Linked DNA regions of Homo sapiens. The protein of the gene in region 3 interacts with the protein of the main gene of each other region in a pairwise test. Each region holds a gene or a part of one and is shown on either strand. Other genes may lie near its edges.

What was found.
Region 1: the proteins of EIF2S3 (region 3) and MAPDA interact in binary tests that used the Homo sapiens proteins (3 or more experiments, as listed by UniProt).
Region 2: the proteins of EIF2S3 (region 3) and TAF8 interact in binary tests that used the Homo sapiens proteins (3 or more experiments, as listed by UniProt).
Region 4: the proteins of EIF2S3 (region 3) and RANGRF interact in binary tests that used the Homo sapiens proteins (3 or more experiments, as listed by UniProt).

The regions. Positions count from the first base shown.
Region 1 is NC_000015.10:43,326,171-43,333,673, forward strand, and holds the start of MAPDA (N6-Methyl-AMP deaminase), read left to right. Parts: upstream 1-4,501; 5' UTR 4,502-4,689; intron 4,690-5,729; 5' UTR 5,730-5,830; intron 5,831-7,140; 5' UTR 7,141-7,264; intron 7,265-7,503. Other genes in the region: LCMT2 (tRNA wybutosine-synthesizing protein 4), read right to left, coding at 2,259-4,319. UniProt on the Homo sapiens protein: Catalyzes the hydrolysis of the free cytosolic methylated adenosine nucleotide N(6)-methyl-AMP (N6-mAMP) to produce inositol monophosphate (IMP) and methylamine.
Region 2 is NC_000006.12:42,060,515-42,067,539, reverse strand, and holds part of TAF8 (transcription initiation factor TFIID subunit 8), read right to left. Parts: intron 1,229-7,025; coding exon 1,081-1,228; intron 1-1,080. UniProt on the Homo sapiens protein: The TFIID basal transcription factor complex plays a major role in the initiation of RNA polymerase II (Pol II)-dependent transcription.
Region 3 is NC_000023.11:24,064,944-24,071,968, reverse strand, and holds part of EIF2S3 (eukaryotic translation initiation factor 2 subunit 3), read right to left. Parts: intron 5,972-7,025; coding exon 5,877-5,971; intron 4,006-5,876; coding exon 3,861-4,005; intron 412-3,860; coding exon 242-411; intron 1-241. UniProt on the Homo sapiens protein: Member of the eIF2 complex that functions in the early steps of protein synthesis by forming a ternary complex with GTP and initiator tRNA.
Region 4 is NC_000017.11:8,283,801-8,290,605, reverse strand, and holds RANGRF (ran guanine nucleotide release factor), read right to left. Parts: upstream 1,937-6,805; 5' UTR 1,818-1,936; coding exon 1,741-1,817; exon of another isoform or gene 1,651-1,740; coding exon 1,534-1,650; exon of another isoform or gene 1,349-1,533; coding exon 1,192-1,348; coding exon of another isoform or gene 1,104-1,191; coding exon 1,018-1,103; coding exon of another isoform or gene 1,014-1,017; exon of another isoform or gene 991-1,013; coding exon of another isoform or gene 963-990; exon of another isoform or gene 794-962; coding exon 670-793; coding exon of another isoform or gene 622-669; 3' UTR 519-621; downstream 1-518. Other genes in the region: SLC25A35 (solute carrier family 25 member 35), read left to right, coding at 1-101. UniProt on the Homo sapiens protein: May regulate the intracellular trafficking of RAN. Promotes guanine nucleotide release from RAN and inhibits binding of new GTP by preventing the binding of the RAN guanine nucleotide exchange factor RCC1.

The DNA.
Region 1 (7,503 bases), on a different chromosome or scaffold from region 3:
TGCCACTGCGCCTGGCCTCATCACAGTGTTCTGCTTTTATCTGCTCCTGAAAGCTGGGGTGTGCTGTAGTAAACTTAGAAACAGGAAATACAGAACAGCCATTTTCTCCTGCTGATCATATTCCCTGCCAGTTTTCTACTACCTGGCCCACTGATCGCCTTGCCAGATGTCTTCCCAGCTGTAATAAGCCCTGTTTCCCAGGACTCAGTCATAGCCATAACCAATGCTTTCCCTAGAAATGGCTCTTACAAAGTCTCAGGAAAGCTGAAGTTGGACAACAACCTTTTTTTTTTTTCTTTTTAAGAGACGGGGTCTCACTCTGTCAACCAGGCAGGAGTGCAGTGGCACAATCACAGCTCACTATCACCTCAGCCTCCAGAGTATCCAAGACTACAAGCACACACCACCGTGCCTACTTATTTTTTTGTAGAGATGGGGATCTGACTTTGTTGCCTGGGCTGGTCTTAAACTCCTGGCTTTAAGTGATCCTTCTGTCTTGGCCTCCCAAAGTGCTGGAATTATAGGCGTGAGCCACCATGCCCAGCCTATACCACAACCCTCATTCAGCTGGTCTCCCCCGGGGAGGCTTCATCTAACAGAGCCAAGACTGTCCTCTCCATACACTTAGGTTTGTGTTTGCTACTTGGTTTTTATATTAATCACCTTTCACATCCATTTATATGCAAAATTAATAGAAATAAAGGATGCAATTTGTCATCAATGATGGTTCATAATAATCATTTAGGCACTTGTAGAATGAAAACTACTAAGGTTTCTAGGACTAAGAAGAAATACTAAAGTAATACACTTATTACCACCAAAGCCACTACATTTTTTGAGGTGTATATTTCACAAGGTATGCATAATTTAGATGACAAATTAAGGCTCAAATTTTAAGGATGAATAGCTATTTCATTGATCTCACATGGCTCACTAGGCAACAGATTCCCATTTAAAAGGGATAATTGAGTTTAATGGGATGCTAACTATAAGGGGCTGAGTAGGGTTAAGGGAAACCAAGTCAAGATATCCAGTCAGCAGTGTCCAGTAGAAATTTCTGTAACGATGAAATGTTCTACATCTACATTGTCTAATACAGTAGCCAAAGCCACACATAGTTATTAAGCACTTAAAATGTGGTCAATGTGACTAAGCCACTGAATTTATTAATTCGTTTAAATAGTCACATGTTGTCAATAGCTACCACATTGGACAGTACAGTTCAGGTCTAGCAAAGAGCCATCACAACTCCTAGGCCTGAAAAGGTGAAGTAAAGGAACAATTACTGAAACCTGGGATGATGCAGAATTAGAACTCTGTCTTCAGGAAAGGATTACACGGCAGGAGCTGTAGCCTTTGACAGAAGAATGCTGCCACTGCCAACTTGCAAACCAACAGGGGAAGAATTGGGAATAAATACCAACTCACTCTCACTCTTCTTTTTGCCCCCATTCCCCTCTGGTGCCTCTGACTGGTGGAACTCAACCAAAAAGTAAAGAGAGCTCCTTGATGCAGCCCATAAAGGTCAGCCTCTTGGAGCACAGAACAGTGAAAGGTGGAGAGTATATCTGGAACAAAACATTATTATACCCCGTGCAAAATGAATTGAGGCATCAAAAGTTTGCTTTATTGACACTTATAAATCTAAATAAATATGGAACCAATAGCAAAACATTTAAAAAGTATGTTGGTAAAGGAAGTCCTACAAGTGTTTCCTGTTGTTAAAACTATCCGAGTTTTCTGTTGCAACAAACAGGACAATGTTTTAATCAAACTGTGACTGTGTTCATTTCAGGTTTCCTACATGAAGAATTGTCAATACTACGCTCCCTCAACTATATTCAACCAAGGATCTGCGTGAAACTTTTTCTAAGGTACCATCTCAAATATATTCAACCACGGAACTGCGTGTAACTTTTTCTAAGGTACCATCTCAAATCACAAGGCCTGGGATTGGGAAATTGTTTTACTTTACTAAAGACCACTGTAACTCAATAAACGAACTTAGATTAGAAAATTAGAGGCAGACCACTACTCCTCTCGGACTGCATGGCCACTGTCTTCAGCTGTTTTCTGTAGTGATTGTTTCTAGGTATTTTACCTATTTTACCAACCTTTTTCACTTTTTGCACTGAATAGTGCTAAGGGAAAAAAAGGATGGGGAAAGGAGGAGTGGCAGTATCTATAGCTAGAGGGTCATCCTATTTGTGGAAAACTTTATTGTCTACTTTAGTGGGTCCTGAATATTAGTCCAGTCCTTACTGCCCAGCACTTAAGGAAGAAAGGTCTAATGTGACTGTATGGGGGTTGAAGTAGGTACCAAAGGAAAAGCAGTTCCCACCACCTCCAAGGAGCAGGAGCTGTTGCTCTTCAGGAAGAAGGATACTAGTATGGTTGTGTAACATTAATGGCCATGGCACATATGTTGTGTCAATCTGATACTCAGAGCTCAATCCTGTAGTCAAATTGATCACAGTCACTCCAGGAAATGAGGAGGAATGAATCCAGATCCCTCCAACCAGTAACAGCTTTCCATTGAGCACATGAGCTGTGTGGGAGTACCTTGGGGTAATGGGAGGCTGGATGTCTACTGACTCCCAGAGGAATCCACAAGAGATTGGTCTCAGAAAGAGCACAGAGTTCAATGGCTCCTCAGAAGCCCCGAGACCTCCAGCAATAAGGGCTCCCCCTTGCCAAGTGCAGGCACTGTGAGAATGCCGGGCTTCAGGTACTTCTCCCTCCACTGGGATCCTGACCCAAGCCATTGTCCCTACATGGAGGAAATGCCAGTCACTTAGTACAGGTTCCACCACGCTTCGACCCCCATACACAAACAAATATTCCTGATTCTGACAGGACACTTCTGTTGTTGAATGCCGCCAACAACACAAAGTGGAATCATCCTTTCGGCCAGCCTTTGTTATTGTCACTTTCAGGTCCTCAGTGTTATTATCCTCACTCTTAAAAAAATGAAGCTGGAGAACCCCCAAGGCTGGACTTACTGGGGACAGTCTCCCTCCCAGAACCAGAACCCGACTCTCTGAGAGTCTTGTCATGGTGTGATAAAGGCGTCCATCCCACTGAACTCCAGTCCCACAACTGCCTATTTGGCTGCCTTTCCATTCAGAGTCACAATCTCTTGAGAGCAAGTGAAACTGGCTCACTCGGCAGTGCCGCCCCTCCTGCTCTCCAAATCCTCCTGCACTGAGAATAACGTCTGGGCTCAAGAAGACAGAGGCGTGGCCATATCTCTTCAGGTTTGGGACCTGGCCCTCGCTACTGACTACGCTGGCAGGGAATACCCCTGAAGGCGAAGCAGGATTTACGCGAGGAAATGCCTCTGAGGATGGAAACACTAGGGTGTGGGAGAGGGTGTCTCCCCTAGAAGCTGCCAGAATGAAATAATGGGCGCACTTCAGATGCCACTCCTCAAATTCGTCAAAGGGTTCAATATTTTCCACCCGCCGGCGTTCTTCTGCGGGAAGAAAGCAGTGATAGAATTCATTCATGTCCACGGCACCGCAGGCGGTCCAGCCAGCTTGAAGGAAGCGGCGCCGCTGCGCCTCCACGTCAGGAAAACGCTCCAGGCCATGCAGGGGGGAGTTTAGCTGCCGAAAATGTTGCAGCATGAACTGGCCAAAGGCGTCTTGAGGCCTCATCTGCTCATAGACCACGAAAAGGGCATTAGGAAAACGCTGGGCTGCCCAGGCGATGAGGGCCGCGGCACTCTCCGGCTCGAGGTAGGTCAGCACCGCCTCGGCCAGGAGCAGAGTGGGTGAGGCTGCGTCGAGCCCCGCGGCGCCCAGGGCCTCCTCCACTCGCTGGAGCTGCCGCAAGTCCAGACCCAGGATGCAGTAGTCTGCGCTCTCAAAGCACAGCGCGGACGCGGGCTCCCCCCTCTCGAAAGGCCCGGTTAACGCGCACAGCTCTGGCGTCTCTCCAATCCTTTCTGCTTTGCGCCGCGCCACGTCCGGAAAATCCACCTCCCAGACTGCAGCCCGGGCCAGGCGGCCCGCGGTTTTTAAGCGAAAATAGAGCGAGTCGAAGCCAGCGCCGAGAGACAAGATCTGCGCGCGAAGCGCGGCCTGGGGCGCGCCAATCTGCTCCAAAAAAGCGCGCACGCAGTGCCTCACGGCGCGTGCGCGGACGTAGTAGCCTCGGTGAATGAGCGGTGCGCGGCGCGCCGCGCCCGGAACCAGCAACGCGGCAAAGGGGTCCTGCACGTACCCGCGCGCGGCCAGGGAACGCTTGCTGAGGGCGCTGCTGTCGTTGGTGTTCTGTACCGCGCCTGCCCGACGCTCACGGCTCCGGGGGCCCATGGCCAGAAGAGACTCAGGAATGGCAGTCTGTCACGGTTGTGAGCCGCCCCTTGGTTAGCACACACCTCACGGACCTCGGTAGGGGGAAAAAAACCACCCATGCTCCTGGACTTCCCCTTCCGCCGGCACTTGTGCGTCACTTCCGGGAAGAGCGCATCTCGCCAACCAGAATTGAGGAGGGTGTAGCCAGTGCTAAGTTCGCTTGCGGCTGACCTTTCTTTGGAATGTCGTGAGTTCCATTTGTCCCAGAATACGGTCCGCTACCGCTGTGACATGAGTGTTAGGGAAGGCGGGTTGTCACGTTTCTACAAGCCTTCCAGTCAAAAGGGAAACCTTGCCTAAGTCCTTGTAGTTGAGAAATCTCTAAGAGGTGAGTCTGTGGGGACTGACGACTTGGCTTCCTTGGACCGCCAAGGAAGGGTCTGGTAGGAGCCAAGAAGGGTCGGCACCACGGACCTTCAGTAGGCAAGGATTAGTTAGCTTCCTTGGGTGCTAATAGTTGCTGATTTATTTAATGCTCTCACAGTTGCAAAAGAGAACCCCATTTAAAACTTGAAAACAAGTCACTAAGGCCAGGGTGCAAACTGAAGAAACCGACCTTTACAAATAATTTATAGACACCTAACAAGAAGACGTTTCCCCACAGATAGTAGACTGTTGATTCCCTTGTATTCCCAGCCCTATGTTAGACTGACGGTGAATAAACCACTCAGCCTCTCTTTCTCATCACACCGCCTTGGAGAATTCTGTGGATTTTAAAGTAGTGTTGAATATGTCCCCAGAAAGGGGAGTCACTGAAGAGAGGTGATTGTTCCCTGTGATATGTTCTGAGCTTTGTTTTTAAGGAGTAAATCCAGGTTAGACTTCAGAATAATCATAAAGTTTCTAAATTGGGTGTCTGGGAGTCATCCATAGGAAACCACTTCCAGAGACATTTAGGAAATTTATCATTTGTTCACTGGGATTTGGTGACTGACTGGCTGAAATAGAAAAGGAAATCAGATAACTTTATGGTTAACTACAGGTGGTACTGCATAATGGTTAAGAGTGTGAGTTTTGGAGTCCAGCAGATTTGGATACTGGAGTCAAGAAAAAGTTTCGTATTTTCCAATGTTTTCTTGTGGAACAAAATGAAATAAGAAAGAAAAGGTTTGGATCAGGATAAAGATTCGGTAATTGAAAAGTGACATTTAGATTTGGTGTTTAAAAGCTCATTAATGGCCTTAGGGAGAGCAGTTTCTGTGGAGCAATAAGGGCAGAATCCATGTTTCAGTGAATAGGAGGTGAGTTAAAGGAGGTATCCAGTCTAAATTATTATACTTTCGAGGAGCTTAACTCAGAAGGAAAAAAGGGTCAGGGCAGTGGCTAAAGAATATTGTGGGATAAAAGAGTCTTTTGTTTTGTTTTCAGGTGGAAGCAAATACTGCACATGCGTGTTGGTCCTGTGAGGGAAACCAGCTAGTGGAGAGGGAGAGGTTGAAGGAACAGAAAAATGAGAAGACAACTCACTGGTAGAGTAACTTGGAATAGATAGAAATGGGATCCTGGGCACGTATTAGTTGTGGGGATAGGAGAATGAATCCTTTATCTGTGACTCCTGATGGGGTAAAAAAAAGATTATGGATAATCATAAGCTCAGGTGTGAGGTAGGGCAGAGAGAAAAAGAAGGAATTTGCACCTGATGGCTTCTGTTTTCTCTGTAAAGTTGGTGACAGAGTTGTCAGTTTAGTGTAAGGCATTCAGATCTGATGGAACATTTGAGCAGTTTGAGAATTGCTTCTGAAGGGATTAGAAGAAGGGCTCACCTATGCCTGCTGGGTCAGTGGATCCTCACCTCTAAAATGAGATTAAGTACTGCTTCGTGAGGTATCTCAGGGTTGATTGAGGGGCAAATAGAAAAAAAAAAAAAGTTGAAGGACTTTGAAAAATACGTAGCACCATAGAAACAAATTTATTTAATGACAGGTTCCTAAAATGTAGGTGTTATGTCAAAAATACTACTTGTTTTGCAAAGACCAGATCAAGAAAAGTAATTAAAGAAGAAAGAGAATGGAGTAAAATTTCTGATTTCGATGCCTTATGATTTAGGCCGGGGGAGGAGGGGCCATTGTTTAAATCTCAGTTTATTCTTATATAAAATGGGGATAATAATATCTCAGGGGTTGTTGTGAGGATTTAAACAAAATAACTATCTAAGACACCACAGTGCCTGGCTCATGGTAAGTGCATAATAAACAGTAACAAATTTTTTTTTATTCTGAGTTCCCTTTTGGGGGAGTAGGTGGGAGCATGAAAAAAGTTCCCTGGGAGACAGGATACTTGCTTCTGGCCCTGCTCTAATATTGATGAAGTATTACTAACGTGGATCTTATCCCAGTGTTTGTTGCCTTCCGTCCCAGAGCAAAACCAGTCCAGAAAAGTTAAATTTGTCATGGCATGCTGTTGTTGGTATCCATGTTTTAGGCAAGGAACAACAATTTTTTTTAATGTGTAAAGATTATGATTGCTTAGTTGCTTTTTAATTTCCATAGGTTAACATTGTAGCCAGTGGGTCAGTAAATTTACTCACAGCTAGTTAAAGGTCAGTCTGGAGGATGGTTTGAATGGGGCACAAATTAAGGTCAGGATCCTGGAGTAAAATTGAAAATCTGGCCGGGCGCAGTGGCTCGCTCCTGTAATCCCAGCTCAGGCTGGTGGATCACTTGAGCCCAGGAGTTTGAGACCAGCCTGGGCAACATGGTGAGACCCCGTCTCTACAAAAAAAATTTTATATAAAATTAGATGGGCATTGTGGTGCATGCCTGTGATCTCTGCTGCTTAGGAGGCTGAAGTGGGAGGATCGCTTGAGTCTGGAAGCTTGAGACTGCAGCAAGCTGTGATCGTGACACTGCACTCCAGCCTGGGCAACAAAGTAAGATCCTGTCTCAAAAGAAAAAAAAAAAAAGGTATGTTTTTCCATTTTAATTAAATCATTTATGTTTTTCGGTAGAGATATTAAATGCCATTGATTAAATAGTCCATCTTTTTCATTTTTTACTATTTATTAAGCACTTACTATGGCATTACTTTGAAATGCCATGTTTATCTCATACTAAGTAGGCCTTTCTATGGATTTCTATGGCTATGTTTAGTCCTATACAAACTACTTTCTTTATTGTACATTTTAATATCTTGGTAACTTATT
Region 2 (7,025 bases), on a different chromosome or scaffold from region 3:
GACTGTTAGAAAATACTCTAGAATTGGCTGGGTGTGGTGGCTCATGCCTATAATCCCAGCACTTTGGGAGGCTGAGGCAGGCAGATCACTTGAGCTCAGGAGTTCAAGACCAACCTGGCCAACTGGGTGAAACCCCGTCTCTACTAAAAATACAAAAAATTAGCTGGGTGTGGTGGCTCCTGCCTGTAGTCCCAGCTACTTGCTGAAGCAGAAGAATCGCTGGAACCCGGGAGGCGGAGGTTGCAGTGAGCAGAGATTGCGCCACTGTATTCCAGGCTGGATGACAAAGCAAGACTCTGTCTCAAAAAAACCCACAAAAACTCCAGAATTATTTTTGCTGTGGGTCAGATGTGGGGTCCTGCAGTAAGAGCTAGGTTTGAATGATGTCTACTAGCCATGTTCCTTGAGGAAGTGACTTCATTTCTCTTCTCTTGTGCCTCATTGAAGGGTTCCTATGAAGGTAGTGATATATCAGTTCCCAACTCAGAGGCTCACAAGAGGATTTAATGAGATAATGTATGGGAAATGATGAGCACAGTATCTGGCACTTAACAACCGGCAGCTGCTGTTATTCCAGAGCCAGGCACACAGCGGGCGTTCCACAGGAGCTTGCTGAATGAATGAATCACCCAAACCAACCTCCCTCACTCACATTTGTAAAAACTGAGGTCTTTGGAAATGAAGTAGCTTGGTCAACATGGCCAAATAGTGCTGAGATGCCAAGTTAAATGAGGTGGGACCTACGAGGGAACATCACGATGGGCAACTGGCCCCTGATGCCAATGTTCTTCTACTACCTGGGCTGCCACCAAGTGTCTCTGATGCCTAGGCCTAGGCTACCCTCAAGGTAACTCTATGGACCTCAAGCAGCCAGTCCCAACAGAGACCATTACTGTTTTGGAGTCGTCAGTTAAGGACAGACTCTTAAGACCTGGGGAAGGGAGCCAGAAATCTGAGAGGCAAGCTGTACCCAAGGGAAGGACAAAAGCTTATTTGTTTCTTCCTACCATGCTGAGAGAAAGAAAAGATAATGTGAGTGTTTCAAATAAGACAGGGTCCACACAGTGGGGCAACTCTCACATGGAAATGTGCTGACGTCATCTTTGAAAAGACTCTGAGTCTCGCCTGTCTTGGCCATGAAACGGGTAAGTGCCCGCTCCACATCGCGCCTCTGGGATGCAGCCTTCTCCCGCAGGACCTGGTAGTCTGACACGGGCTCACGGTACGTCTACGAAGAGAGCAGCAAAGACACTGGGGTGATGCCGAAGTATCATTCTGCTTTCATCAGCTCCCTGGCTTGCTGTTGCTATGCCCTGTTCTCTAAAATGACCCAATACCAGGCCAGGCACAGTGGCTCACACCTGTAATCCCAGCACTTTGGGAGGCCAAGGCTGGTGGATCACCTGAGATCAGGAGTTTGAGACCAGCCTGGCCAACATAACGAAACCCCGTCTCTACCAAAAATACAAAAATTAGCTGGGTGTGGTGGTGGGCACCAGTAATCCCAGCTACTTGGGAGGCTGAGGCAGGAGAATCGCTTGAACCCAGGAGGCGGAGGTTGCAGTGAGCCGAGACTGCATCATTGCACTCCAGCCTGTGCAGCAGGAGCGAGACTCTGTCTCAAAAAATAAATAAATAAATAAAATTAAATTAAATGACCCAATACTATTAGTTAGAGCCAAGATCACCAAAGCACAGTAGAAAGGTGGAAAAACAATGTAACTACATTAATATTCATTTCTAATTAAAAATTAAGAAATGTACAAATATTTACTGTAGAGATTGTCTTGGAGCCTTCATTCAGCTCCCATGACAGATGGTCTCGGGTCTAAGAGACGCATCGTGAAGAAAGAGTGGGAGTGCCCCCAGGGAAGCCCTGATGGGGACCACAGGTTCCATCAGCGCAATGTGACCTCCTGCAGTATGGGAGTGGCTGCCTATGTGGACTTGTGGATTATACCATCCCATCTTATTAAATCAATCCTCACAATATGGATACATTGTTCCAAAAAGATTCCCTCAAAGAAAGAGAGGCTGAAGATCTTATTATACGTGCAAGTGACCAAGAAAACGGCAGGCTGCTACTCTTCCTCCTAATTATGAGCTTGCTGGCAATCAAGTTATGGAGTGAAAATGATTGAGATCAGAATGAGAAATGAGCCAAAACTTTTTATTTTATTATTTTTATTTTTTGGAGACAGAGTCTTGCTCTGTCACCCAGGCTGGAGTGCAGTGGCGCCATCTCAGCTCACTGCAACCTCCACCTCCTGGGTTCAAGCGATTCTCCTGCCTCAGACTCCTGAGTAGCTGGGACTACAGGCACGTGCCACCATGCCCAGCTAATTTTTGTATTTTTAGTAGAGATGGGGTTTCATCATGTTGGCCAGGCTGGTCTCGAACTCCTGACCTCAGATGATCCACCCACCTTGGCCTCCCAAAGTGCTGGGATTACAGGTGTGAGTCACCGCGCCCAGCCGGAAAACATTTTAATTGGTAATGGCAACGGTGACATTTTAACAACGACCAATAAAGTAACTACTCTTCATGATACTGAGATACCATTTTTTTTTTTTTTTTTTTTTTGAGACAGAGTCTTGCTCTGTCACCCAGGCTGGAGTGCAGTGGCGGGATCTCTGCTCACTGCAAGCTCCGCCCCCCGGGTGCATGCCATTCTCCTGCCTCAGCCTCCCGAGTAGCTGGGACTACAGACGCCTGCCACCACTCCTGGCTAATTTTTTTGTATTTTTAGTAGAGACGGGTTTCACTGTGTTTGCCAGGATGGTCTCGATCTCCTGACCTTGTGATCCACCCGCCTCAGCCTCCCAAAGTGCTGGGATTACAGGCTGAGATAGCATTTTTAAAGAAGGCACCTGGAAATGTTTCTTTGTTGTCACCATCAGTTCAAGTGTGTCACCTATACAGTTCTCACATCTGTACTTAAACAAAGAAACAGAATTTTCTGACGTGTTAAAAATCTTCCCAAAAGGCTGGGTGTGGTGGCTCACACCTGTAATCCCAGCACTTTGGGAGGCCGAGGCGGATAGATTACCTGAGGTCAGGAGTTTGAGACTAGCCTGGTCAACATGGTAACACCCGGTCTCTACTAAAAATACAAAAATTAGCCAGGCGTGGTGGTGGGCACCTGTAATCCCAACTACTTGGGGGAGGCTGAGACATGAGAATCGCTTGAACCTGGGAGACAGAGGTTGAAGTGAGCCGAGATCACACCACTGCACTCCAGCCTGGGGGACTGAGCGAGACTCTGTCCACCCCCCACAAAAAAACCCCAAAACTTCCCAATAATAAAATGAGTGGATTTTGAACATATTGTACTTGTTAAAAACATTAAAATGCAAAATCTTGTAATGATTCCTAAGACAACTTTTGGCACTCAATAAATTAGAAATTTAATAGAAAATTTTCAACCAAATTCTTTGGATAATGAGTAAATGAGGATGAAAAAAATTAGTTTTATGATTTATTAAGAGCAGCCAATGATGTTACATATGTTTGTGATGTACCATTTTCAACTATGAGAGCCATTAAAGTATCAAAATAAACTAATCTTAGATTCTGACCTCCAACTTACTATTCCATCAAGTATTAAACCAAGATTTCTAGGCTGGCATGGTAGCGTGTGCTTGTGGTCCTAGCTACTCTGCAGGCTGAGGTGGGAGGACTGCTTGAGCCCGGGAGTTCAAAGCTGTAGTGCCATGATTACACCACTGCACTCCAGCCTGGGCAACAGAGCGAGAACTCCACCTCTAAAAAAAGACTGAGCACAGTGGTGCATGCCTGTAATCCCAGCACTCTGGGAGGCCAAGGTGCAAAGACTACTTAAGGCTAGGAGTTCAAGACCAGCTTGAGCACCACAGAAAGACAAAAAACCTGTCCCCATCTCTATAAAATAACAACAACAACAAAACAAACAAGAACAACAAAACAAACAAAAACCCTATGATTTCAAAAAATAAAAAGCAGAGGCAATTGCTCCCGCTAGAAAAGGTTATAGGTTTCCTGAACATTTTAAAAGGGTAAGATTATCTTTTAATGTACATTATTTTGTACAATGTTACATTATAATATTCACATAAATAAGCAAACATATACTGGAGTATGTACCCATGCCTGGGTGAACTGCTTGCGCCCAGGAGTTTGAGACCAGCCTGGGCAACATGGCGATATCTTGTCTCTACAGAAGATACAAAAATTAGCTGGGCATGGTGGTGCACCCCTGTAGTCCCAGCTACTCGGGAGGTTGAGGTGGGAGGATCACTTGAGCCTAGAAGGTCGAGGCTGTGGTGAGCTGAGATCGCCCATTGCACTCCAGCAGCCTGGGCAACAAAGTGAGACCCTGTTTCAAAAAAAAATGTTACAGATAGGGATATACTATATAAAAGAGTTAAAGAATGTTATGGGTTGAACTGTGTCCCCACAAAAAAACATTTTTGATATGTCCTAGTACCTCACAATATGACCTTATTTGGAAATAGGGTCACTGCAGATGTAAGCACAGTGAAGATGAGGTCTTACTAAGGTAAGGTGGGTCCCTAGTGCAATATGACTAGTGTCCTCCTAAGAAGCTGGCCACAGGAAGACAGAGATAGAGAATGCCATGTGAACTTGGCATAGCTTTAGCCATAGCTTTTGTTAAAGGGAATGTAATTTTGTCTAGTTCAGAGGGTTTTAAAGATTGTCTTGGCCAGGCACGGTGGCTCATGCCTGTAATCCCAAAACTTTGGGAGGCCAAGGTAGGTGGATCACAAGGTCAGGAGTTCGAGACCAGCCTGGTCAATATGGTGAAACCCCATCTCTACTTAAGAAAAAAAAAAAAATTAGCCAGGCTTGGTGGCAGGCGCTTGTAGTCCCAGCCACTTGGGAGGCTGAGGCAGGAGAATCACTTGAACCCGGGAGGTGGTGGAGGTTGCAGTGAGCTGAGATCGCACCACTGCACTCCAGCCTGGCAACAGAGCAAGACTCTGTCTCAAAAAAAAAAAAAAAAAAAAAAAAGATTGTCTTAACCTAAAAGAGTAACAGAATCGAAACTGAAGATTTAAGCTAAGTAAAAAAGGTTTGTAAAGGGTTGATCGTGTAAAAATTCTGTGGGTATCAACAAGTTGGCTAAGATTTAAAAGAAATTATTTAGCTTTTTTCTGTAGGCTAAAACATTAAAATCATACTGATGTGGGGCCAGAATCTGGACCCACGTGTCTGAATAACAGGGTTTTCTTAGAAAATTGACCTACTGTTTGGTGGAAAATTGTAAAGGGTTCTAAAAAGTTTATGAAAATCTTACTGTATGGTCAAACTAATTAAAACTGGGTAGAGATATAAAATTTTATTTAAAAAACTAGCTTTAACATTAAAGATGCGCTAGTACAAATATGAAATTTGTTTTTCTCTTCTGAAGATGATTTTTATGTAATGTTAAAAGATAATGAAAGGGTTTTCTTTTCTCCTTTGGGTGAATGGCAGGGAAAAAAAAGAGGAGAGGGAGAGAAGAGACAGATTCAGTTGGCCTCATGCTATCTTCATCGAGTCTTGTTTGGAAAGCTAAGTCTCCTCTAACAGAGTAAAAGTTTTTCTTTACAAAAAAATTTTTTGGAGTTATCATTTTGGCTAAACGAATGACTTATGGTGACCTGGGATTCTATTTTGTGATATCCAGTGTTTTAAACCTTTGATATTTGACAAACTTTCCAAAATCCAATTAAAAATTATGTCTCTTTCTAACCTTTTAGATATTAGGTCCTCTAAAGCCCAAAAATGATTTGGCTTATCTGATACAAAATCATACAGGAGGCATTGTCAAATATGAAATGGTGTTTGGCTTTCTTTGGTCTATATTTGTATAAATGTTATTGGTATATGTTCCAAAATTACATAAAACTTCTATAATTCTAATATGACTTAGTGTATGTTATCAGTAATAATTATAATGATTATGTTAACAGATTGTGTGCCACAGAGGTAACAAATTTCCTTGCCAATTGTGCCTTTAACTGTGGCTGCCCTAAAATGTTTTTGTCATACACTTGTCTCATTTTGGTCCTCTTTAAAAGATGGTTTTATAATCAGCTATAAAATTTAACAGGTGCTAATAAATGCAGGTTTCTGATTAATAACTCTGGAGATTGTGACATTAGAATAGAGGAAAAACTTTCAAATAGAAGAGTGAATGGTGTTTGGTTTACTTTAGACTGTATTTGTATAAATATATTATTAGTATGTGTCCAAAATTATGGGAAACTTCTATAATGTTGATATAGTTTAGTGTACATTAATAATTATAATTGCTATGTAAAATTGTTGTATGCCACAGAAGTAACCAAAATTCCTAGTCAATTGTAGCTTTAATAGTGGCTATAGACTTTTGTCATCCACAGACATTTTATCTTGCTTTGGTCCTTTTCAAAATGCAGTTTATAATCAAATATAGGACTCTAAGTGCAGGTCTCAGATAACTTTAAGAACTGTGCTATTGGAATAGAGGAAAAAAACAAACTTCTAGGACTCTCACGGAGAGCTAATGTGTTAAACATTGCTAAACCTTTTGTTTTCAGAGTCAAGAGAAATTATTTCTTTAGAACTATTTGCAACTTTTATCATGTGAGTAAAATAAACTCCTGTGAACAAAATTTACAGCATATTGTTCCTCTCTACCTGATTTCTCCAGAATTTGGAAACTATTTGTGAATATTCTCAATTTATGGCAGTATAGCTAATTGCATAAGTGCAATAAGAATCTGTTTTCTTTTGTAACAGGCCACAGTTGGAGAAATTGGTTATTTTACCAAGGCTTTGACTGGAATGGCATGCTTTTTTTTAAAGAATCAAAGTTGACTTATATAGCCAATTAAAGCCCGTTGGGGAATCTGGCCTTATACCCCGTCCACACAGAGTCTCTGTACAAGGTTCCTGACCTGTGGTAAGTAAAGAATGTCACTTTCAAACAGGCTCAGGAACCCCAAGCTATCTTGGGACCTCAAGAGGAGACAAATTTGCCCAACTCATAGGTATTTGAG
Region 3 (7,025 bases):
AGGAGGTGGAGGTTGCCGTGAGCCGAGATCGCGCCACTGCACTCCAGCCTGGGCAACAGAGCGAGAGACTCCATCTCTAAATTAAAAAAAAAAAAACCCTCAATTTTGGGGAGGTCAAATTTATTTACCTTTTCTTTTTTTCTTAATTTCATGTTAACTGTAAAACAATAAAACTCAACACTGGTTTAACACTCCCATTTGTCACTTTTTTAGAAACAGGAATTTTTAAAAAAGCATTTACCTTTGCTGCTTTCTTGTCTCCTTCAGTGCGTACACCTAGAAGCCGTCTAAGCAGGAAATAGGAAATTTCCAATTCTGTGAATATCTCAGGTAAAGCTCCGACTGCACCAAGTACTTGCCCCACCATTCTGTCAGCCCGGCACAAAGTGGGGTCAATTTTTGTTCCAACTCCTATATAAAAATAAGATGTATATAGCTCAATTTTTTATTTCCTAAAACACCTATAAAGTGAATTAGTTGGCCAGGTGCAGTGGCTCACACCTGTAATCCCAGCACTTTGGGAGGCCGAGGCAGGTGGATGCCTGAGCTCAGGAGTTAAAGACCAGCCTGGGCAACACGGTGAAACCCTGTCTCTATTAAAATACAAAAAATTAGCCAGGCGTGGCGGCGTGCACCTGTAGTCTCAGCTACTTGGGAGGCTGAGGCAGGAGAATCACTTGAACCCAGGAGGCAGAGGTTGTAGTGAGCCGAGATCGCACCACTGCACTCCAACCTGGGTGACAGAGTGAGACTCTGTCTCCAAAAAAAAAAAAAGTGAATTAGATACCCCAAAGCCATATAAGCACAGCATATACCTACACACTTTCATACTTTTATTTTTATACTCATATAATAGCTATATAGGTACAAGAAAATACCTGTTTTATCTAGACAAATAGAAATATACACTCATGAGATGACTGGGCAAATGAGAACAGAACGATTCTCTTGATTTAAATTCTAAACAAAGGGTTTAGAAATCTGATTTTCTAGGAATGATGGCTTGGCTGAGAACTTAATGCAGGAGATGGTAAGTATTACTGACCTGGTCTTGAAAACAATAAATTCTAAACAAAGGGCAAATAGAGATAATAAGTGAACTCAAAATGAGTCCGAATATCCTTAACAAAGACCGAAAGAATACAAAATTCAAAATGAGTAGTTTGCAGAATACCTGCATGCCATTTCTCCCCTGAAAGACTGATTGAAAAGATAGTTAAAGACTACATATGGGCCAGGCGCAGTGGCTCACACTTATAATCCCAGCACTTGGGGAGGCCCAAGTTGGAGGATTACCTAAGGTCAGGAGTTCAAGACAAGTCTAGCCAACATGGCAAAACCCAATCTCTACTAAAAATACAATAGCTGGGCATGGTGGCAGACACCTATAATCCCAGCTACTCGAGAGGCTAACGCAGGAGAATCACTTGAACCTGGGAGGCAGAGGTTGCAGTGAGCCGAGATCGTGCCACTGCACTCCAGCCTGGGCGACAGAGTGAGACTCTCAAAAAAAAAAAAAAAAAAAAAAACTACATATGATTCCTGGGATCTACTTCAAAATATTCTAGCTGTGTCTTGAGGGGAGTAGGGGAAAGAAGATATATAGATGGAGCAAGATTGATTGGGAAAACTTTTTTTTGCTGCTGTTGTTGAGACACAGTCTCTGTCGCCCAGGCTGGAGTGCAGTGGTGTGATCTCGGCTCACTGTGACCTGGGATTACAGGCTGGGATTACAGGCATGTGCCACCACACCTGACTAAATTTTTTTTTTTTTTTGTATTTTTAGTAGAGACAGGGTTTTTCGAACTCCTGACCTCAGGTGATCCGTCCACCTCGGCCTCCCGAAGTGCTGGGAATACAGACATGAGCCACCACGCCCAGCCAAGACTGGTAAAACATTAATAATTGCTGAAGCTGAGTGATGGCTCTATGGGGGTTATCATTACAGTATTCTATCCTATGTTTAAAGAGTTCCTTAGGCCAAGTGTGGTGGCTCACGCCTGTAATCCCAGTATTTTGGGAGGCCAAGGAGGGCAGATCACTTAAGACCAGAAGTTCGAGACCAGCCTGGCCAACATGGCGAAACCCCATCTCTACTAAAAATACAAAAATTAGCTGGCTGTGGTGGTATGTGCCTATAGTTCCAGCTACTCGGGAGGCTGAGGCAGGAGAATTAACTGAACCCAGGAGGCAAAGGTTGCAGCGAGCCGAGATAATACTACTGCACTCCAGCCTGGGTGGCAGAATGAGACTCTGCCTCAAAAAAAAAAAAAAAAAAAAAAGAAATTAAAAAAGTTCCTTAAGTTAAATTTTTAAAAAGTTTCCAGATTTCCCTTGTTTACCACACACATGCACACAAAAGATAAAATGATAGATGGAACTACAGGCACACACCACCAAACCCAGCTAATCTTACTATTTTATTGGAGAAATGGCATCTCATGGTTTCCTAGGCTGGTCTCAAACTCCTGGTCTCAAGCAATCTTCCCACCTCAGCTTCCCAAAGCACTGGAATTATGAGCATGAGCCACCATACCCAACCTGGTAAATTCATTTTTTCTTTTCTTTTCTTCTTGTTTTTTTTTTTTTTTTGAGACAGAGTGTCACTCTGTCACCCAGGCTGGAGTGCACTGGTGTGATCTCGGCTCACCCTCCGCCTTCTGGGTTCAAGCGATTCTCATGCCTCAGCCTCCCGAGTAGCCGGGATTACAGGCGTGGGCCACCACACCCAGCTAACTTTTGTATTTTTAGTAGAGACAAGGTTTTACCATGTTGCCCAGGCTGGTCTCAAACTCCTGAGCTCAAGCGATCCACCCACCTCAGCCTCCCAAATTGCTGGGATCACAGGCATGAGACACTGCGCCCAGCCAACCTGGTAAACTCTTTTTCATTTTTTTGTTTTCTTTTATTTCCTTTTTAAAATTTTCAACCAGAGACACAACTTATTGGGTGAAGAATTAACTGTTTCTTTACCAAACATTTTCTTCTTTAATCTAAAGGTACAACACCCCTTCTAATTCTCACTGAATCTTTCATTTTTCTGGGTATTGAGTAATACACTAAGTTGTAAGGGACTAGAAAAGTTTTTAAATCACTTCAGTAATTGCTACACAAAGAAATTTACTTTCTTTTATTTCTACCTCATTGGAAATACGACCTGATATCATTCAACTGACATTTGTAGGTAATTTTCCATTTGCAAAATATACATAAAAGCAACCATGGCCGGGCATGGTGGTTCACGCCTGTAATCCTAGCACTTTGAAAGGCCGAGGCAGGGGGACTGCCTGAGCTCAGGAGTTCAAGACCAGCCTGGGCAACACGGTGAAACCCCGTCTCTACTAAAATACAAAAATCTTAGCTGGGCCTGGCAGCATGTGCCTGTAGTCCCAGCTACTCGGGAGGCTGAGGCATAAGAATTGCTTGAACCTGGGAGGCAGAGGCTGCAGTGAGCCAAGATTGCACCACTGCACTCCAGCCTGGAGGACACAGCGAGACTCCATCTCCCAAAAAAAAAAAAGGCAACCATTATCTAGCACAAAAATCATGTTAACAAAAACATAAGTGTAGGTAAATATCTTACATGATAAGTCATCAAATTTATTTTTTTATATTGCTAAAAAGGAGTTACTCTATATTTGATCAAAATGTATCCTTTGTGTTTAAAAATAATTTTTACAAACCCATGAAACCATCTTATAACCTAAAACAAGAGCTTAACCACATGATTGTTCCCCACCCTACTCTATTATTAAAATACCCAATTAAAAATCTGTAATATGTCCCTTTTGGTAATCCATCCCCCATGAAAAGTACCACAAATAGCCACAAATTAAAAGAGATGAGAAAAAAATCCTTACCAATAAGACCGCCTGGAGCAGCATATTGCAGATCATTATGCTCCGCAAAAAGTGATACAATTTTGGAAAAGATTGGTTTACACATGAGTTTTCCTTCACTATCTTTGGAAACAATACCAGGTCTTACTTCTATCTCCTGGCCCACCTGTAAACATATAATTAGTAATTAGAATTACTGTGTTACGCAAAATTATCATTTACCTATCAAAAGTTCCAACAGGGACTGGGTGCGGTGGCTCACATGTGTAATCCTAGCATTTTGGGAGGCCGAGGCGGGTGGATCACCTGAGGTCAGGAGTTCGAGACCAGCCCAGCCAACATAGTGAAACCCCGTCTCTACTAAAAACACAAAAATTAGCCAGGTGTGGTGGCACGCACCTGTAATCCCTGCTACTCAGGAGGCTGCGGCAGAATTGCTAGAACCTGGGAGGCAGAGGTTGCAGTGAACCGAGATCGCACCACTGCACTCCAGCCTGGGTGACAAAGAGAGACTCTGTCTCAAAAATAAAATAAAATAAAATAATAATAAAGGTCCAACCGGAAGACCATAAAACTGAAAAGGCAATCATTCCTGTATTTCAAAGATCATTATTCTTAAAAAAAAAAAAAAAAAAAGATGTGAACGAGACTGTCAAAACCAGAACCATCCAACTGTTGTTAACTACCCACCACACAAGTCTATTACCACATCAAATGTGCTCCATACTTACAAGTCTATAAATTTTCAAGTCAGACACATTCAAAAGACATAACAGAAAACAAAGAAATATAGCTGGGCGTGGTGGCTTATGCCTGTAATCCCAGCACTTTGGGAGGCTGAGGCAGGCAGATCACCTGAGGTCAGGAGTTAAGAGACCAGCCTGGCCAATATGGCAAAACCCCATCTCTACCAAAAAAATTAGCTGGGCGAGGTTGCGAGTGCCTGTAGCCCCAGCAAGTCGGGAGGCTGTGGCAGGAGAATCATCACCTGAACCCAGGAGGTGGAGGTTGCAGTGAGTCAAGATCATGCCACTGTGCTCAAAAAACAAAACAAAAAAAAAACTATTATCAGAGCATGTAAATTAGTATAGCTACCATGGAGAACAGTATGGAGGTTCCTTGAAAACCTGAAAATACAGCTACCATATGATCCATCAGTTTCACTAGTGGGTATACATTCACCAGAAAGGGAAGCAATATTATCAAAGAGGTATCTGCACTCCCATGTTTATTGTAGCACAGTTCACAATAGCCAAACATGGAATCAACCTAAGTGCCCATGAACAGATGAATGGATAAAGAAAATGCAGTATATAGGCCGGGCAAAGTGGCTCACGCCTATAATCCCAACACTTTGGGAGGCCGAGGCGGGTGGATCACTTGAGGTAAGGAGTTCAAGACCAGCCTGGCCAACATGGTGAAACCCTGTCTTTACTACAAATACAAAAATTAGCTGGGCATGGTGGGGGGTGCTTGTAATCCCAGCTACTTGGGAGGCTGGGGCAGGGAGAATCGCTTGAACCCAGGAGGTGAAGGTTGCAGTGAGCTGAGATCGCTCCAGCTTGGGCGAAACAGCAAGACTCCGCCTCAAGAAAAAAAAAAAAAAGAAAAGAAAAGCAATGGCAGCATATATATATATGCAATGAAGTATTATGCAGCCATAAAAAAAAATTCTGCCATTTGCAGCAGCACATCTAGAATTGGAGGCCATTTTGTTAAGTAAAATAAGCCAGGCACAAAAAGACAAATATCACACATTCTCACTCATCTGTATATGTGGAAGCTAAAAAGGTGGATCTCATGAAGGTAGATTGTGGATTCAGAGGTCTAGAAGGGTGGGAGGAGTGAAGTTTGAAGAGAGAAAAAAAGAATATTAAAAAAGAGAACTCTACATCAAATACCAGAAACCATGGAAAAAATTTTATTTTTCAATTTGGATTGTCCATACTTTTTTTCCTGATTAAGACAAGGATAAAACAAACAAACAAACAACAAAAAAAAAAAACCCAAAATCACAACAACCAAAACCCATTTTACCTTTAATACTCCTTTTAGGATACTACCACCAGCTACACCTCCCTTAAGGTCATCAACTTCACAGCCAGGTTTGTTGACATCAAAAGATCTAATAACTAAAATAAAACAAATTAAAGTCAGTTCTGTTAATCTTAACTTTAGAAGAAATATTATTTTCCATGTTAATGTTTCTAAAATAGTGGCCATTTGAGATTTATACCAAAGGGGTGCCTTTTTAACAAAATCTATTATTATTCCAATGATTAAGCAGTCTTACTTATGATGGAAAAAATGAAAGTAACTTAAGTTTATTAATAAGTGGCATATAGGGTATACCAGTATTATAGAGCATCACGCAGCTATTAACAATGTTAGAGCTATATGTAATGATCTGGAAGGATGACCCTCACATACTGTTAAGAAAAGTTATAAAAATTACACGCATAATATAATCCCACTTCCATAAAGAAAAATAAAATAATCAATGTCTGTATATGGATTTTTTTTTCCCTCTATCATAGAGGCTGGAGTGCAGTGGCACAATCATAGCTCACTGCAGCCTCAAATTCCTGGGCTCAATCTTCCTGCCTCAGCCTACCGAGTAGCTCGGACTACAGGTACACACCACTGCACCCAGCTGTAATATTTTATTTTTTGTAGAAATGGGGTCTTCCCTTAATGCCCAGGATGGTCCTGAACTCCTAGCCTCAAGCAATCCTCTCACCTCAGCGTCAGCCTCCCAAAGTGCTGGGATTACAGGTGAAAGCCACCATGCCCAGCCTGTGTATATGTTTATACACGATGATATGAACAAAGAGAAAAGTGTGGGAATAATGGACACCAAATGTTAACTTTGCTGACTTTAGGGCTAAGGAACTAGAACTTGAAGACAGAGAGATTATGGACATTTTCTTTATAGACCTCTGTAACTCCTGTAAGAACAATTCAGCTTTATAACTATAAAACACTAGGACTACATGACCTGCACTTCGGAGACTATTTCCTACTAAACACCAGAAGCTCGGATGAAAGCCAGAGGAGCTCAAATGTCTGTTTCGAGAAGGCTACTACATCCCCGTGTAGGAACCACAAGCCTAGGTGATCAAATTATACCAGTATCAGTTCTTCGTTAATTGAACAACAAAATCATCTGTAAATGTTTTAGTCAGG
Region 4 (6,805 bases), on a different chromosome or scaffold from region 3:
AGGGTATAGGTGCCTCCTACTTCCGCCTCGGCCCCCACACCATCCTCTCCCTCTTCTTCTGGGACCAGCTGCGCTCCCTCTACTACACAGACACTAAATAACAGCCGCTTTCCCAGTCTCCACCAAATGAGCACTCCTTGGCCACTTGTGCCTCCACCACTATGTCCTGGTGACTACTGATTAGGTGACCTTTCATCCATCCATGGGGGACAGCCAACCCCACTCCCCATCTGTTCTCAGGGTTGAATCACTACAAGAGATGAGTTTCCCTTCTTTCCTTGGGTGTTGCTTTAAACCTTCCCTACCCATTCCCTGGGTAACTCACACCCCTCTCTCAGGGCTGAACGAGTCATCCCAAAGTGTATTTCCTCCCACTCACCACTGCCACCCTTGAGTCCCTCCTGCTCCCATGCACAGTTTTAAACTCCTCCCTCCAAAACCAAAGGGAATCGAGAGACCCAATTCCCAGGCGTCTGGGACCCAGGTGTCCTGTTAGATTCAAAGGCACAGAGATTATATTGATTATAAAGCAAGTTTATTCTGAAGAGGGATTGTCTTATGTTTACGCACAGGGAAGAAATAAGAGGAAACCCTCTTTTCAACCTCTTTTCCCCCTCACAGAACCGAGTCCCCAAGTTCTCAGCAACATCATGCAGTGCTTCAGCGCCTTTACTGGGGACCAAAGATGTTAGGATCGTGAAGGGTCAGACTGGTCACCAGCTGTTCAAAGTCACCCAGGCTCCAGGGTGCAGGTGACAGATTTTCGGGGCCAAGAGATGACCTGTTGTCAGGGCTTGGGGTGGGGGAACAGATGGAGACAGAACATCATCCAGGCCTGAGGTTTGGAAATTGCCAATTCCTGTTCCCCAGAGGACCTGGGTATCAGTTACCCCAAACCTCTGGCCCACTCCTGCTTCCTTGGAGGATCCCACCAGTGAGTCTCCCTGTTCTGTCCCTCCCAGCCCGATTCTCCTGGGAACCCAGTCATGAGATACCCGCCCGTTCCTTCCTCCTTACGGGGGCTGATTGAAGGTAAGCAAGAGATCAGTCTGGTACTGGGGCAGCCTCAGCAAGGCCTGATGAAGTGTCACGTCCTTTGCTACCTAAGGGGATCAGAGTCAGGATGCTTACCTGGATCTCTGCGTCCCCGCTACCGCCCTTCCAGGACATTACACACTCTCGGGCCCTCACCTGCTGGTTTTCCTTAGCTATCTGCTGCTTGCCAGAGAGGACCCAGGCTTCTTGACAGCGGCCCCTCAGGGCCAGGTTCTCCAAACTGAGAGGCTGAACAGACTCCACATGGACAGCCCTAGCCCCCTGCACGCCACCAACATCCTCAAAGTGGTACCTGGAGTAGGGAAGCGGGGTCAGGAAGGGACATCTCTGGTCGCCTCCCCGGGAGCATCTTTAAGTTGCAGGCCTGGCTCCCGGCCCGTGCGTGGTCTCACCGCCCGGATTAACCGTCGGCCGCGGGCCCCGCCCACTGGTCCGACCCCGCCCCTGCCATTGGCCAGCCGGGGGCCATTCCCTCACCGCGCAGCCGCTTCGCCCCGTACGTGGGCCTGCAGCTCGAGAAGTTCCACTATCAGGCTCTGGTCCGTCACGGGATGGCAGAAAACTTCTTGATTGTCCGGGACCGGTCGGAGGTCGCTGGAGTGAGGCGAGGCAGACCCTGGTTGACCCCGGTCTCTTCCCACAACCCACCCAGTCAGCCGCCCCTGGGCGCCCCGGCCTTCTCACCTTACGTCAATGGCCCCCATGGGGAGGATGGCGGAAAAGGCGCCCCCGAACAGCGGGCAGTCTCTCGTGGGCTCCATGGGTCTGAGGCTGGGTTATGGGCATTAGAAAGGTTTAAAAGAAGTCCACATTGGGTCACGTGGCATCGGCTCCCTGGGTTTCGCAGCTGCCACCGCCACCCGGGTCTGGCTTAGCTCCCGGATCCTTTAAGATTTGGCTCCGCCCTGCGCTCTCGTTGGCCAATCGGCGCCAAGACCCTGGGGGCGGGGGTCAGCGGCTTTGCTCCGGAAGCCGCGCTCTTAGGAGTGCGCCTGGCGGGACGGTGGGGTCTGCCTTGGGGTTGGACTTAGGGTTAGGGTCTATGTCGCCCCCGGTGGTCACGAGCATGCTCCCGCCAGCCTCCTCTTGATTGATTGATTGATTGATTGATTGACAGGTCTCGCTGTGTCGCCCAGGCTGTAATGCAGTGGCGCGATCACCGCTCACTGCAGTCTCCACCTCCAGGACTCAAGTGATACTCCTGCCTCAGCCTCTTGAGTGGCTCCTGCTCCCGCCACCACGCCCGGCTAAATTTTTAATTACTTGTAGAAATGGGGCGGGGTGGGGAGTGTCTCCCAATCTTGCCCAGGCTGGCCTCAAACTCCTGGACTCAAGCGATCCTCCCGCCTCGGCTCCCTAAGTGCTGGAATTACAGGCGAGAGCCACAGCGCCTGGCCTCCTCGTCCTTTTCAAGTGGTCACACCTTCCAAGAAGGTCGCCTGAGACCCTCCTGAGGGGCAGGTGCTCGTCAAAGGGGCCCACGTCTAGGTAGGGTCTCTTGAGTCAGGAAAGCATAGTTTCACGGTGTTCTGGGCCTCTGAAAGAAGAATGGGCTGCCACCCAGACCGCTAATTCATAGATCTGCTGCTGGGAATTAGGGGAACAATGCGTCCAGGTTAGGATTCAGGTCTCACATCTTCCTGAAAGTGAGAGCCAACCTGGGTATTAGAAATCTAATTCCTCTCAAATATTTGCCTTGGGAATGCTCCCGGGCAGGTGCAACCCCACCCCCAGCTCCACACACCTGGACAGAAGCACAGATTAAACCCTCTTTTGTTTGTCTTTTACAGATTTGTTGTGTTCTTTAAGTTTTAACTTCACTATATCATTTCAGTTCATTTCTCTATTCATCTTTGATCCTCAGCACCCGGCACGGTGTTTAGAGCATAACAGACCTGATATATATTGGGTTTTTTTGTTTTGTTTTGTTTTTGAGATGGAGTTTCACTCTTGTTGCCCAGGCTGGAGTGCAATGGCATGATCTTGGCTCACTGCAACCTCCGCCTCCTGGGTTCAAGCTGTTCTCCTGCCCCAACCTCCCAAGTAGCTGGATTACAGGCATGCACCACCACACCCAGCTAATTTTGTATTTTTAGTAGAGATGGAGTTTCTCCATGTTGGTCAGGTGAGTCTCGAACTTCCGACCTCAGATGATCCGCCTGCCTTGGCCTCCCAAAGTGCTGGGATTATTACAGGCGTGAGCCAGCGTGCCCAGCCCAGACCTAATATATATTGTTAAGTGATTGAATAAACTCAATGCAAATGTCTGGAACCCAGGAGATCACCCATACCCTCATGGATTCTAGATGTCACCTACTTCCCAGCCAAGAATTGGGCAAGAGGACTCTGATCTTGAGGCCATTCCACAGGGTTCCAAGTGCTGACCATACCTCTGGACCCTAATGACTTAGTGAAATGAAGCCAAAGGGTACATATTTATTGGTCTCTTACCTTGCCAGGCCCTAATGTGAAGGGCTGGAGATACAAAGACATTTAGGACACAGCCCCCGATGCCTCACTGAAGGAACAGTGGAGCACACTTTGAGTCTTTTTTTGTTTTTTTTTTTGAGAGGCGGTCTCACTGTTGCCAAGACTAGACTGTAGTGGTGCAGTCGTAGCTCACTGCAGCCTCAACCTTGTGGGCTCAAGCCATCCTCCTGCCTCAGCCTCCTGAGTAGCTGGGACTACAGGCATGCACCACCATGCTCCGGTAATTTTTGTGTGTGTGTGTGTGTTTTATTTTAGGGATGGAGTCTCACTGTGTTGCCCAGGCTGGTCTCGGACTTCTGGTCTCAAGTGATCCTCCTGCCTTGGCCTCCCAAAGTGATGGGATTATAGGCATGCGCCACCATGCCTGGCCCATACTTTGAGTCTTAAAGTTTGACTCAGAATTCAGTAGGACATCCTAGGGGTATTCTAGCTGGGGGAACATCAGGAGCAAAAACTTGGAGATGAGAGGGCATATTTTGGAGAAAGCAAGTGTATCTGTTTGGCAAGGGAGGGTAGGATGGGAATGGGTGGCAGGGAGCTGCAAACACAGTCAGGTGTGCAGGGTTTTTGTAGCGCACACTAAGGAGCTTGACTCCTCATTTCTTACTATAGCCATCAGACTCCTCTCTGAGTCTCATTTCCTCATCTCTAAAATGCTGTTGGGGGGCCAGGCGCCGTGGCTCACACCTGTAATCCCAGCACTTTGGGAGGCCCAGGTGGGTGGATCACCTGAGATCAGGAGTTCTAGACCAGCCTGGCCAACATGGTCAAACCCTGTCTCTACTAAACATACAAAAAAAAAAAAAAACAAAGGAAGAAATCAGATATGGATGTAGTTGAGTCTGACCTATTTCTGGGTAAAGAGAGTAGAATAAGTTTGCTGTATGAGGAATTTGACAGAGCGGGGGCGTTACAGGCTCTAGAGGGAAAGAAGGACCCCAGCCATGGGAAACAAAAGGAGCCAGGTCAGAGGAGTCCACCCCATGATGCTTCTCTGGGATAATGAGTGACAGACCTCTCTGTCCCTCTCTCCTCCTTGCTGCCAGCCTGCTCTCCAGCTCCATTCCCCACCAGGGGCAATACTGGCTCTGGCTGCTTTGGGAGCAGTCAAGCAGGTAGAGTCCTTGGAAAGGGACCTACAGGGACATAGAAGTTAACAGGGTGCCTGCACCAGGCATAAGGGGGTGTGGAGGCCTGTTACATGGGCCCAGAGGAGGTCACGCCAGGTCAGGAAGGCTGAGAAAAAAGCCCCCCCAACTTCCTCATTTTGGGTGTCTGGCCTGTCTCATGTTCTCCCATGAGCCCTACGCAGCTGGGGACCCCTGGCCCTCCACAATTCTGTGGGCTCTTGGGGGCTGCTCAGCCAGACCTCCTCTGAATGAATGGGGTGGAAGGCCACCCTCACTTGGCAAATCCCCACGCTTGGCTCCACTTCCCCTTCTCCCTTCACCTTTTTTTTTGTGTGCCTGTCAATTCTGCTGGCCCTGCCACCTGTCGACTCCCTCAAGTGTTCAAATTCCAACTTCCCAAGGGACAGGATCCAACTGGGTCGATTAGTTGTTATTCAATCTGAAAGTACCTATTTGGCCGGCTCTCCTGCCTGGCCACTCCTCAGGCCACCACCCAAACACAAGGGAGATCTCTGGTCCAGCTGGCTGTGGCTAGGATGATAAGTATCAGGGGACAAATCTCAGTAGAGAGAAGGCCAGCAGCCACTTTTCTCAGGCGAATGTGAGGGTATGGCTCGCTGTCAGCCCACTGGTTGCAAGTAGGCCTGCAACTGATTGATTCTCTACACCTGGGACATTCCCTTATCCAATGCCCTGCATGCAGTTGATGCAGTTGTTTGCTATGGGGACAAGAGTCCCAGAGACTCTCCCCTTTAGGGCACCAAGAGATGGACTCAGATCAGAGAGACAACACCACACCCAAAGTCAAGCATTCCTTTGAGTTAGGACAATGAATATTTCTATTAAGCAGGGGTTTTCGTCCTTTTTTCTACTGTGGACTGCTTTGGCAGTTTTGTGAAGCCCATGATCCCCTATTCGGTGTAATGTTATTATTTTTATTTTTTCTGTGTTTTTGAGACAGGGTCTTATTCTGTCACCCAGGCTGGAGTGCAGTGGCATGATAACAGCTCACTGCAGCCTCAACCTCCTGGGCTTAAGCCATCCTCCCACCTTGGACTCTCAAAGAGATTACAGGCATGGGCCAGGTGCGGTGGCTCACGCCTGTAATCCTAGCACTTTGAGAGGCCTAGGTGGGCAGATTGCTTGAGCTCAGGAGTTTGAGACCAGCCTGGAAAACAAAGTGAGACTCTGTCTCTATTACCAAAAAAAAAAAAAAAAATTAGCCAGGCATGGTGGCATATGCCTGTAGTGCCAGCTACTTGGGAGGCCAAGGTGGGAGGATGACTTGAGCCTGGGAGGCAGAGGTTGTAATGAGCCAAGATCACGCCATTGCACTCCAGCCTGGTCAACAGAGCCAGACTGTTTCTCAAAAAATAAAAAAGAAAATTAAACCCAGATATTTGATAGAGTACAAGTCTACTTCTTTGTTATCATATTAACTAGATCTAGCAGCAGTCTCTAATAAATGTAATAAAAAACTAGCAATGCATACAAATTATGGTTCAAGATATCCACAGCCATTCTAAAGTAAGCATATCTGTAACTGCTATTGAGATGAAACCACAGATACTGCTAATACTACTGTGGTTTGTTACCTAAATTCACAGTGAAAGGAAATGCTAAATTTCAGTTAAAAGGTTACTGAAAACATGGCTGTACGCAGTGGCTCACCCCTGTGATCCTAACACCGTAGGAGGCCCAGGAGGGAGGACTGCTTGAGCCCAGAAGTTCGAGACTAGGCTGCGCAACATGGCAGAACACCAACTCTACCAAAAAAATACAAAAATTAGCTGGGCATAGTGACTCGCACCTCCCAGCTACTGGGGAGGCTGAGGCGGGAGGATTGCTTCAGCCTGGGAGCTTGAGGCTGCAGTGAGTCGACATCATGCCACTGCACTCCAGCCTGTGTGACAGAGGGAGACCCTGTCTCAAAAAAAAAAAAAAAAAAAAGAGCCAGGAGTGGTGGTACACACCTGTAGTATCAGCTACTTGGGAGGCTGAGGTGGGAGGATGGCTTGAGCCGGGAGGTTGAGGCTGCGGTGAGCCGAGATGCCACTGCACTCTAGCCTGGGTGACAGAGGGAGACCCTGTCTCAAAATATCATAGCCTGGGCGACAAGAGCTAAACTC